3 separate regions of the Homo sapiens genome follow, and regions 1 and 3 are each linked to region 2. The links come from fine-mapping of genetic effects on gene expression. A gene starts in region 2. Each other region holds a variant in brackets. All regions are shown on one strand. Distances are from middle to middle. Region 1 has its middle 24 kb from the start of NAALAD2. Region 2 holds the start of NAALAD2 (N-acetylated alpha-linked acidic dipeptidase 2). Region 3 overlaps UBTFL1 (upstream binding transcription factor like 1).

Region 1 (4,246 bases), 24 kb after region 2:
CATTTTGCTTGAAGGTGTGTGCAAGTATGCTTGTATTTTTTTAAACGATAATATGGTCACATGAGCATATACTTTATTTTTTAAGAGTTTATAGTTACCCAACACAAGTTCTTATTGATTCCCTCATTCTTAACACCTGCACAGTATTTCATTTTATAATTAATGGATTGTAGGTTTATTCTTTTAAAATCACTTGTGTTGTTCTCATGTTTTTTTTTTTTTCACTAAAAAGTGTTGCAATGCACAAAACTACAAATATAAAGAGGGTCTTCTCTGGATCTCTGTTGAAAAACTTTGAATAAAAATTACAAGTTCAAATCACACGTAAAATAAACATTTTAATTCATAGGGCTTTTATGCAAGATGCTAGTAGCAGCAGCACAGTTTTATTAATATCCCTGAATCTCTCACAAAAATTGACTGAGCAACTGGGATAACAAGGTATTAACTATGACAAAACAATGTAACAGGGTGTCATCATGAACCTTTTGTGAGGTTAAACCACAGAGACCCAGGGGAATCACCAACTGTTTTGGAAGAAGGAAAGGAAAGGAAAAAAATCTTTAATGGCCCTGGGAACTGGAAAAACTAGAAATACAATTGCTAACATCTATGTTCCTAAATTCAGAGATTCCTACTAGGCAAAAAGAACTTAGCAGATTAATCTGAGAACAGCAGCTGAGGCTGGCAGAAGGCTTCCTGGGCCTCAACTCACAGCTGAGAGTGAGGATGGCAAAAAGCAGTGCTGTGAGTGGTCTGTATCCTATGAACCCTACAAATTAACCACCCCCAAAACAAAGCCCTGTCCTAAGGAGAAACTGCAGGAAGTCAATTATAAATTGAGTTGGGAAGGACACTGAGGCTCAAGAAAAGAGAAGCTCCAGGTTAAGATGCAAGAGAAGAAGGGAAAAGGCAGTTTTCTGCAAGTTCAAGCACAAATAATTTCTTTACCTTCTAGTTCTGGAAATACCAGGTGCCGTCTATGTAAAGCAGGAATTTTGGTTGAATATTATATAATTTTCTGACCCACTGTTACTAATCCAGTCTCCCCTGTACTCAGATCTTCCATGCTGCAGACAGACTGACAGATGCTCAGCAAATAGTAGCTAATATTTTCTAGGAAACTAGGTGCTAAACGAGCTTTCTTAAATTTCTACCTCCAGGTCTGTAAGTTGATTTGAACCATTACCAGTTCCTGGTTCTGCACAGGTTGTTGAAGGCAGGACTTCTCTCCTTCAGTGGAAACTCCACCTGCTCACAATCAACCATCCTTTCCTGCAGCCTTGAGACACTACTCAGTGCAGCACCCCTCCCAGTCTAGAATAAGCACACTCATCATCAATCTCTCTCATTTTCTGTCTTATCTCCATTCCATCTACATACATTTTTTGTTTGTTTTTGCCAATGTTTTTAAATAAGCAACTGTACAAGCACAACAATGACAACAAAAACCTTCCTCTCCCCAGTGTCGTAGTGAGCAAGGAATATATTTAACTTCAAATAAAAGACAAAAACAAATGCTGGATAAAGCTGACAGAAAGAAATGCAACTGTAGGTGCTCTGGCAATATAGAAATGATACAACTAAGAAAAATAGAAGAAAAGGAAAAAGAAGGTATTCTGCAGAATGATTTTACTGACTGCTCGTCTGTAATGCCTGGGAGTCAAAGGATACTGTTTATAGAAATGTAGGCATACTTAATGGCATCAGGGGAAACAAAGTTAATATTATTATATCAAATTGGGAGATGAAAGATCACATAGGGAAGACAAGAAAGAGTTAATACCATTGTTCTTAGTTTAGAGACATTAGCTACTGTCTAAAGAAAGAGATGATTTTATGAAGTTACATAAGGTAGCCATCAGAATAAAAATTTAACTCTTCCAAATATCACAACATCAAAACAAAATCAATAAAAACAAACAAGGCAGCAAAAGAAGATACGTGCATATAGATCATAGCATAACATGCTGTAACCAAAATATAACCAAACAGAATTTACCAATAAAAGTAAGTGGGCTTGACTCTCTTATTAGAGGAAAAAAATATTGTCAGATTAAATCAAAAAGGAAAACTCAGTTCTATGCTGGATATAACATAAAGTGTTTCAGAAAGTTTAAAAATAAAAGTACAGGCAATGAATAAAAGGATCTTCATGCGTTACAGAGTATAAAACAGTGAGTAAACACATCATACGTTTTCTCTTTTTACACTTAAATGGCTGGAGATGTTACACCACTAGTATGAATTTACTTCAGATATGTAACGGATACACTTTTATGTGATTAGAAACAGAAATGATAACAGTTAAGGATAAAACAACATCTGCATTGACGCTAGGAAGAAAGAGCCATTGTTGGGTACATAGTGATCACATTACCATGGAGCAATCTGTTCCCAACTGAAATTTCCTTGCCCTTCTACTGAAATCGTGTACGATTCTGCAAACATAATGTTTACTTCCCACAAATCAGCCATTAGCTCTGCTATTGTTGTCCACACAGAATAAGCATCAGACCTAGATTTAGCTGTTGTATCATTAAGAGTCTTATTTGGCCCTTTCCAGAGGCTGT[T/G]ATTTCTATTATATTTTGGATAATTTGTCTATTTCCAGACAAATAATTTTTCCAGAATGTGATGAGTAGATACACTTTGATCCATATGAAAAGACCCTTTGGTAGAGATCCAGGGATTGAGTTTATTTTTAATTACTATAGCATCTTGGTCAGGTTGAGAAACAGATCACCTTTATAATTCCCTGGCATGTGAGCAGGGCTAGACTTAGTGTGAAAATGCTTGAAAGTTTATAGTTTTTTAGAAATTTTATTTACTTTGTGTCTCTTTGTCAAAATAAAATTAATGCTGAAAAGCTATATTAAATGAATTTCTTTGAGATGGTCTCTTCCCCCTTCTTCTAATGAGAGGATATCCACAGATATGTCAGGAGCTTGCTTTACCTAGAAACGTGTTGAGGGCCACAGGTTTGGGTTCACCTAGGAACATTTAGGGACACCTTCCCAAGTTGTTGTTGAAGAGTGGGGTAAATGTAAGATAGAATTAGGCTCACAGAGGCCTGATGAGAGCATCATGTCACCCCAGAAACACAGCATATACCTAGGAGAACTGTTCTCAGTATCAATGTCTTAAGCACTGTAAGATTGACTATAGACCAAGACAGTAACTACATATATGTATAGTTATATATATTAACTATATATATACTTAATAAAATCAGTTAATATATACACATATATTTATTTATTTATTAACTTATTTTTATTTTTATCTTGAGACAGCGTCTTGCTCTGTCACCTAGGCTGGAGTGCAGTAGTGCAATTACGGCTCACTGCAGCCTTGACCTCTGGGGCTGAAGCTCTCTTCCTGCCTCAGCCTCCTAAAGTGCTAGGATTACAGGTGTGAGCCACCTTACCTGGCCCAGGGCAATAACTATGCAATGCTTATATAATTTGGAGCAAAAAAATATTTGAAATATGTATGCATTGCTTTTTAACCTTTTCTATTGATTTACTTTATTAAATACTGAATAGAAACAATATATTTATAAAATATTTATAATATATATATAGAATAAGCACACAATGAACACTTGTGTCTCCAGTCTTGGTTTAAGAAATTAAGCCAAAAGTAATCATAAGTGCTTATGATTACTTTTGAAGTCACCTGTACAACTTTTGCTGACTACATCCCCTTCTTCAACACTCTAATGATGGCCACTGTGAGCACTGTGTATATTGAATTGTGTTTTATTTTAATACTGTGTGCACTACATTGTTTTTCCTAGCTGCATGCTATTGCATTTAGTGAGCATAATGAATTATATCAATATAATTCACTTTTGTCATTTCATTGTTTCAGCTTTTCTGTACTAATTATTGCCAATATATTTCTACTGGCATAAAAACAGACACACAGGACAATGGAGCAGAATGGAGATCTCAGACATAAATCTACACATTTACAAACAACTCATCTCTGACAAAGGCATCAAGAACATACACTGGGCAAAGAACAGTCTTTTCAATAAATAATCCTGGGAAAACTGAATAACTAAATGAAGAAGGATAAAATTAAACCCCTCTTACCATATACAAAAATCAAATCGAATAAAAATAGATTAAAGACTTGAATCTAAGACCTGAAACTATGAAGTTACTAAAAGAAAGCATAGGAGAAATGCTCCAGGACATTGGTCCGGGCAGATTTTTTTGCGTAAGACCTCAGAAGCACA
Region 2 (4,246 bases):
GAGATGGAGGGGGATGGGGAATAAACTGCAAAGGGCATAATGGAATATTTTTGTAGCATGATGGAGGAGGTGGTTTGTTCAGCATAGCATACGTCTGTCATAACTCTCAAATTGTAGGCTTTATAGGGATGCAGTTTATTTTATGTAAATTATACTTCACTAAAGCTGATTTTAAAAAATAACACCCATTTGAAAGAGTCTGAATACAGAAATAAATACCATGGCCATTGTTCTTAAGGAGTTTATGATCACTCCCCCAATTTCCACTGTTTTTCATGGTTAGAAGCTGGAGGAATGGCAATGATTCTTTTTGGTTTCATTTTGTCTTATTTGTAAAAAACAAATTTATACCTGCAAGATGGGATAAAGGTTTAACTTTTGGCAGACAGAATCAGACACTTTGATCACTTTTCCACTAAATCACTTAGTCAACCATCATCTAACTTTCCCTGACAGAATATGGTATCTAAGAAAATTGCTGATTAAAACCCAGGCACTGATGAACAAAGAATAACATTCAGTTAGATCCAAAGTTACATGAAGTTGAAACATCTCTCAATAAGCCAACCAGATACTTTTTGTTACATAAAGTTAGGGAAGAAAGACCTACTTTTTCACCCCAAGACTGGTGTAAAGAGACATTAAAAAAAAAAAAAAAGTTGATGACTAATATGTAATTTCACACAGAGAAGACTGTCCTCATGCATATAACCAGGTATAATATGCTTCTCACTGTGATATTTTAAACATGATTTTTAAGATCAAATACGTAAAATAAACTTACCGAAGAAATGATTTGATGTTTTCAGCTTTCATTTCGGATACCAGTTTCCACCGTATACTTTGATGATAGCGCACAGAAGTGGTCGTTTCTTTGAGAGGCTTAATAAACCAGCCTAAGGAAAAAAAATACACAAACATGCACACATACACACAAAATCACTTTGACTTTATTAAAACTAGAAGCCACCCCTCTGTCCTTCCCCCCAAAAAGCCTTTATCTGACAAGTAGATCATGGTGAGCTTTAAAAAATAATGTTTATATTAAATGCAGAAAACCTGTAAATTCTGATATGTAATATAATTTTTAGATGCTTAAAAGGAGTTTTATTTAAGAGAAGCTCTTTCATTTTCTCACGTTATGCATGAAGGCATGGCTTTTGTTGTTCTTCCCTGGATCTCTAGTCCCTGACACATAGGGAACATTCCACAAATATTTATTTACGTATAGAGCAGGGTTTTGTTTTGCTTTGTTTCGTTTTGCTTTGTTTTTAATGCTGCCCGTATTAGTTGAAAGTTTTGACTCACTAATGTTGCTTGGAAATAAAACGATTTTTTTTCATCCCTGCAGACAGTGACAGCTGTAGGTTGTCTTTAGTGAACTCAGTGAACATTTAATAAATTTGAATTTCAAGCACACTTTATCTATTAGCAAGCCCAAAATACATTCCATCTGGTTTCTAGTTTTGCTGAAATGTGCAGAGTTTATCATATCTAGCCCAGCCGGCCAGGGCTAGCGCACAGCCCAATCCCTTCCAGCTCCAGGATTTCTCCCTTTATCTCTGCAGAGAATCACGAGCCCCGGAGTCGGGGTAGAGTGTTTTGTTCACTTACCCACCATAAATCCCATCAGGAAAGATGCCAGCGCAGCAGCCAAGCACATCCAAAGGTACAGACGGCCCCTGGATTCCGCCATGGCTTCTTGAGGACCGAGCTTGGGGCGCCTGCTACATTCGCGAGCTTCGGGGCTGCAGAGAAACAGAGAGCGCGCTGGCAGGAGGCTGTGAGCTCTGGGTGGCCTCCGCTGACCTTCGCAAGGCCACGCCTCCGCCCTACCCGCTGGGGACCTGTGGTCCCCAGGGGCCCTCGATGGGGGAAAGGAAGCCCTGCAGAGGGAGGAGACATTCTTCCTGTTGGCGGGCAACTTCCATTCTGTGGATCCCGCAGTAACCCGGACATAGTAGGTGGCGGGAGCTGCTGAAAACGTCCCTAATTTTTTCCTAAAGAACTCTACTGCTGTTTGCCATGCCCATCCCCCAAAATGCCCAGTTTCGGCTCAGAAGTGAATTTAAGTATTGCTTTTCCTGATCTATTGGTTATTCTTCTTCCAGATTCTCTGCTGTAATTTCCCACTCGTCAGACTCGGAAATGATTTCTGGTCCTGGGTGCTCCGCTGTTAAAGCTGTTAACATCACTAATACCGCAATCACTGTCAGCATCAAAATCGATGGGATTGCGTTTTTTTGTTCCCCTTTACTTAAACAAAACTCCACATTTCTGTAATTCTGTTTCCACTCATTTAACTGAGGTTTTTACCTACCTCACTGGAATGTTTTAGGTTCACATTAGTAAAAGTAATCACTGAAAGGACCTTGCACTGCCAGTAGTTACTGAGAGTCTGTTCTTAATGCTAAAGCTCAGACACCAATTTCCCAAAATATGGTGCTTTGACATGCTAAACCGAAGAAGCCAGGGGGTCTCTCTGACCATACCCCTCTCTTCCAGCTCCTCTCTCTCAATCCTTTGTCTCTCCCATAGCACAGAATAAAGCTGTTCTCTAAAGTTCCCTTATCTGCCTAAAGTCCAGAACTACTAAAGGCAAAAACAAACAAACAAAAAAAAAAAGAGTTTCTTTCCTGAGTTTTCATTAACCGAACTAATATCTCAGGAAGAAGGACTGCAGTCTGTCAATACAACTGGCAGCCTTCTGTTACAAACTCTCGTCTGCCCTGTAGGGCCAACAGACTTTGTCCCAGGCCATTGCATATTCTTCAAGCCCATTGAATTTCCCTAAAATTCATTTACTACCCTCTTAAAATTATACACACATTCTCATCTTCCTTTCCTCTAAAAAGATGGGTATATTATCATCTGTACCTCATTGGTTATTGGGTAATCATTCTACTACGATTCCCTTATGCTATGTTATTCATAAATTTGTAAGCCTTTTTTTTTTCTAATAGTCTGCCTTTTGTGAGTTGATTTTCCAGCAAAACTTCAGAGGGTGAAGGGGAAGCTTTCCATTGACCCCTACATTAGCAATGGTCCCTGTCATTCCCCTGTCCTCACCATGCTACATTCATGAAGCATTTCTCTTTAAAGATGGGTTTGCAAAATAGTGGCCATTGTAAATAGCCTTCATCCAACCATCTCATCTCAGAGAAAAATTTTAGGAATTTATGATTGGCTTCACGTATCTAACCAAAAGTAGTTTTTTCAGCCAAAGCAAAACTGCTATGTTGATTTCAAAGATGGTAGTATATCTAGGATAAACTTCACAGCATTGTCTGCAGCCCTGATAGCTTTAGGTAATGCACCTTTGCTCCTAACAAGTGACTGGAAGAGTGAAATTTATTTTTCTGGGACATAACTTTTTTTTGTCCTTGTATTTCAATGGCTATCAATTGAACATAATTGTTGATAGGTATGCCTAATAACTTATTTCTTGAAACTTTTGTAGCATACCTGGTACTTAACTTTGAAGCAAACCTCCTTAATGAACTGTTGATTTCTAAATGTTTGCATGCAATTTAAGTCCCAACTAACTTCAGCTTTTTCAGCTACTAGCCTGTTAGACATTCCTTGACTGACTCCTCCAGTGTTTTTTATTTTAGAGAGAAACATCTTTCAAAAAACATTTTCATAACAAAGTGAGTTTGTTCCCCCTTATATGCATACACACAACACCAAATATAGGGAATTAGAATAGAATTATTCAAAAGGTTCAATATCCAGTGAAGTAACTAAACCCCTCAAATATGGCTTAAGAAACATTTTCCAAGAGCACTCAGAATTATTTTTATGTGTGACATTATGAAATAATACTGGGATTTTAATAACTCTCCAGTGTTTAACAGGTGACACACAAAGGTCTCAAACAATATCAAATGTTATTTTTGTACATATAAACATTTTGGGTATTGATTGTGTAATTTGTCAATTTTTAGACTCTTGGCTTTTTCTATTTGCTACCCATTGGACCATTCACTGTTGACTACATAGCCCTCAAGAGGCAGATCAAAATTATCTCCAGGAAAAGATTTACTGAAGAAAGAGAAGGTAGAAACTAATGAATAAAGTTGCTAAGCTATTTATTAAATTTATTTTTTCTTGCTCATTTTGTGTTTTTTATTGCTAATTGAAGTTTGAGTAATAGAATAAATCAATGCATTATTTAACACAGTTTGCCAGTTTGAATAATCTCCCTAAATTAAAATTAGATTAAAGAGTTCCAAGAATGAGCAAT
Region 3 (4,246 bases), 45 kb after region 2:
CAAACCTGAGAAAAACAAGCAATGGGGAAAGGATTCCCTATTTAATAAATGGTGCTGGGAAAACTGGCTAGCCATATGTAGAAAGCTGAAACTGGATCCCTTCCTTACACCTTATACAAAAATCAATTCAAGATGGACTAAAGACTTAAACGTTAGACCTAAAACCATAAAAACCCTGGCAGAAAACCTAGGCATTACCATTCAGGACATAGGCATGGGCAAGGACTTCATGTCTAAACCACCAAAAGCAATGGCAACAAAAGACAAAATTGACAAATGGGATCTAATTAAACTAAAGAGCTTCTGCACAGCAAAAGAAACTACCATCAGAGTGAACAGGCAACCTACAAAATGGGAGAAAATTTTCACAACCTACTCATCTGACAAAGGGCTAATATCCAGAATCTACAATGAACTCAAACAAATTTACAAGAAAAAAACAAACAACCCCATCAAAAAGTGGGCCAAGGACATGAACAGACACTTCTCAAAAGAAGACATTTATGCAGCCAAAAAACACATGAAAAAATGCTCATCATCACTGGCCATCAGAGAAATGCAAATCAAAACCACAATGAGATACCATCTCACACCAGTTAGAATGGCCATCATTAAAAAGTCAGGAAACAACAGGTGCTGGAGAGGATGTGGAGAAATAGGAACACTTTTACACTGTTGGTGGGACTGTAAACTAGTTCAACCATTGTGGAAGTCAGTGTGGCGATTCCTCAGGGATCTAGAACTGGAAATACCATTTGACCCAGCCATCCCATTACTGGGTATATACCCAAATGACTATAAATCATGCTGCTATAAAGACACACGCACACGTATGTTTATTGCGGCATTATTCACAATAGCAAAGACTTGGAACCAACCCAAATGTCCAACAATGATAGACTGGATTAAGAAAATGTGGCACATATACACCATGGAATACTATGCAGCCATAAAAAATGATGAGTTCATGTCCTTTGTAGGGACGTGGATGAAATTGGAAAACATCATTCTCAGTAAACTATCGCAAGAACAAAAAACCAAACACCACATATTCTCACTCATAGGTGGGAATTGAACAATGAGATCACATGGACACAGGAAGGGGAATATCACACTGTGGGGACTGTTGTGGGGTGGGGGGAGGGGGGAGGGATAGCATTGGGAGATATACCTAATGCTAGATGACGAGTTACTGGGTGCAGTGCACCAGCATGGCACATGTATACATATGTAACTAACCTGCACATTGTGCACATGTACCCTAAAACTTAAAGTATAATTAAAAAAATGAAAAACAAACAAACAAAAAAGAATTGTACCTTTAATCTCTGTATCCCACACAAGGAGGGCAAGTCTTAAAAAGAGTAGGTGCTGAATAAACTTAAAAACATTTCATTTAAAATCACTACTAAAGCCCCAATTGAATTTGTACATCTCACCATCTAGCCTGGGCTATGGGCCTTACTACTAGTTAGTGGCAAATGTGACTTACATTATCTCCTGAATTGGAAATAAAAAGAATCAGATCTTTAAAGTTAATTTTGCAAACTTGATGTTAAGAGAAACAAAGGACATAATATGCAAACACATTTTCTAAATAAGTTCAACCCATTGGCTGGGCTCGGTGGCTCATGCCTGTAATCCCAGCGCCAAGACGGGTGGATCACAAGGTCAGGAGATCGAGACCATCCTGGCTAATGGTGAAACCCCGTCTCTAATAAAAATACAAAAAAAATTAGTCAGGAGTGGTGGCGGGAGCCTGTAGTCCCAGCTACTCGGGAGGCTGAGGCAGGAGAATGGCATGAACCCGGGAGGTGGAGCTTGCAGTGAGCCGAGATCTCTCCACTGCACTCTAGCCTGGGCAACAGAGCCAGACTCTGTCTCAAAAAAAAAAAAAAAAATTCAACCCATCAGCCATCTAGAATTCGTATAAAAATACCTAAATCTCCAGAATCTGTAAGAAAATGAAAGTATGATGGTAAATTGTATGTGTCAGCTTGAACTGGTCTCTGTAAAGTAGGCTTCCCTCCCCAGTATGGGATGTGCATTATCCAACCCATTTAAGGCCTGCATAGAACAAAGGGCAGATGATAGAGGAGTGTGACCCTTTCTGTCCTGTCTCACTGCTTAACTAGTATATCTCGTCTTATCTTCACCTACACTTGAATTAGGGTTTACACCATTGGCTGCCCTGCTTCCCAGGCCTTCAGACTCAGATTGAATTACACCTCTGGCTTTCCTAAGTGTCCAGCTTGCAGATTGCAGATCATGATATTTTTTGCCTCCACAATTTTGTGAGCCAATTCTTCATAATAAAATTAGTCTCTTTGTCTCTCTCCTCTCTACTATTCTATCACTCTCTCTGTCACTTTGTTTCTCTATCTATGTTGGTGGTTCTGTTTCTCTGCAGGATGATGACTAATACAGTAAGAAAAAA[T/AT]TACATAAATATATGATAAAATAAATTTGTTAAAAATCGATATGCATTAAAAATTAAAAGCAAATAATAATAAAAGTAAATAGCAATTTTCTTATTTTTAATAATTTATTTCAAATGTACACATCAGCATAATTTTCATGATTTTAAATTCTGTAAGCATTAGGTTAAAAGTCAGAAGCAAGCCAAGAACAGATTATTGTTGTTACTTAACATTCTTCTGGATATTTTAATCCAACACATTTAGAAATTAGAGGTATAAAAATGGTAAACATTGCCATTATTCTCTGAAACTTATTATTTATTTAGAAAAAACTTATAAGTAAAATTTTCCTAAGATATCTAGGGACAAAATAAACACTCATTATTCAATGGTTTTTATACAAAAAGAATACAACTAGTTCTGTGATGCTAATATTCATGAGAACGAAGTATGAAAATAGCCAGAAATGTTTAATAGAATAAAGGTATACTGAGAAGGCACTAACTTTAGGTAGATTTTCAAACATATTAGTAAACCAAAAAATTAAAACAATGTGACACTGGTGCATGAATTCTTAGATAGAGCAGATAGTGAAACAGGATAGTGTACTCATCTATATCTGTCTTTCTCTACATCTTTGTATCAATCCTGAATGCTAAAGGTGAGATTCACTTGCACCTGAAGCAGCAGGAAAAATTTGGAGCTTCAAGAATAAATGAAGATATAACTTAGAGAAGCTGCACCCAGTGTCACAAATGATTCTGTGGAGGAGCTCTTTCAGATTAAATCAGTAACTTTTTATTTTGTATTTTCATTTTTTTTTTGAAATAAGCAAGAAAAGTCTAATTGAGAACTGAGTCAGATATACATGTAGAAATATTACTCCCTACTCCCAGGCATGGGAATGGCCAACTCCTTACTTCAGGGAGGGGAGGAGAGAGATATCAAGAGTGGGACAATTCTCTTAAGACACCTACCCCACCTTTCATCAAATATCCCCGACCTTAGATTTAGTGCAGGAGTCCTGAAAAACATTTCCACAGGGAAGTTTGGGTCCCAGGCTTATGGGTATCCCCCTACCACCTTTGGCAGGACAAAAATGAGTAAAGCAAAGCTTCTTGCTTCAGAAATATTCAGTCTAATACAGTGTGTACCCCACAACGTAATCATCTCTTCATTTCAGAAGCCTTAATTGCATAAAGTTCCTCGGGAAAGGGATGATATTTGTTTGTTTGTTTTTTTAAGGATAAGGCCAGTATTGGCTCAAACTTATATTTATTCTTCCCAAAGAGTTCCTCCCAGGTTCATAATCTTGATGTAGGAGAGTGCTGCACCAAGTTGCTTCTTTCTTCCCAACCTGTCCTACTTTGCGGGAGGAAGGAAGAAAAGAAAACAAACAAACAAAAAAAAAAAAACAAGGAAGCTGCACTAGAGCCACTGCCCTCAGACATCAACTTCTATTTCTTCTCCACTGCTGCAGTCTGAAGAGTTACTGCTTTCTTCCTTTTCTCTATCTTTCTTCCTGTTCTCTTCTGGTTCCATGGAGACATGACAGTTTACCCAAATAGTCTGTGATGAATCTGTTCCTGCAGCCTGGAGCCCTTGCCCCTCCCCAAACCCTTCTTGCAGACCCTTTGCTGATGAGGACTGTGGATCTGCTTGTTTCAACCTGGGGTCCGGGCCTCCTGTCATGGCCATATTCTTACCCTTAGCATAGGTCGATTCTTTGTATGCAGCATAATTTTCAGGTGACAAAGTCTTGAGCCAGAGATCCAATTTCACCTTGTATTGCTTCTGCAGCTCCTCAGCCTGGCTCTTAAAATGATCCT

Evidence for each region. PIP is the estimated chance that this variant, and not a neighbour inherited with it, causes the effect. A credible set is the group of variants that fine-mapping cannot tell apart.
Region 1: its variant is the best candidate, but not a certain one, in a credible set for the expression of NAALAD2 in putamen (GTEx, PIP 0.69).
Region 3: its variant is the best candidate, but not a certain one, in a credible set for the expression of NAALAD2 in thyroid (GTEx, PIP 0.56).

The regions. Positions count from the first base shown.
Region 1 is chr11:90,108,311-90,112,556 of GRCh38, reverse strand. No RefSeq gene overlaps it. Among named protein-coding and RNA genes, the nearest start is that of NAALAD2, 24 kb to the left of the region's middle. The variant T/G (reference allele first, on the strand shown) is at 2,574.
Region 2 is chr11:90,132,209-90,136,454 of GRCh38, reverse strand. It overlaps NAALAD2 (N-acetylated alpha-linked acidic dipeptidase 2), which reads right to left and starts at 1,792. Exons shown (of 19, transcript NM_005467.4): 1 at 1,615-1,792; 2 at 785-896. The coding sequence starts at 1,696. RefSeq lists an enhancer at 1,185-1,888.
Region 3 is chr11:90,086,746-90,090,991 of GRCh38, reverse strand. It overlaps UBTFL1 (upstream binding transcription factor like 1), which reads right to left. Exons shown (of 1, transcript NM_001143975.1): 1 at 3,861-4,246. The coding sequence ends at 3,861. Among named protein-coding and RNA genes, the nearest start is that of UBTFL1, 2.9 kb to the right of the region's middle. The variant T/AT (reference allele first, on the strand shown) is at 2,438.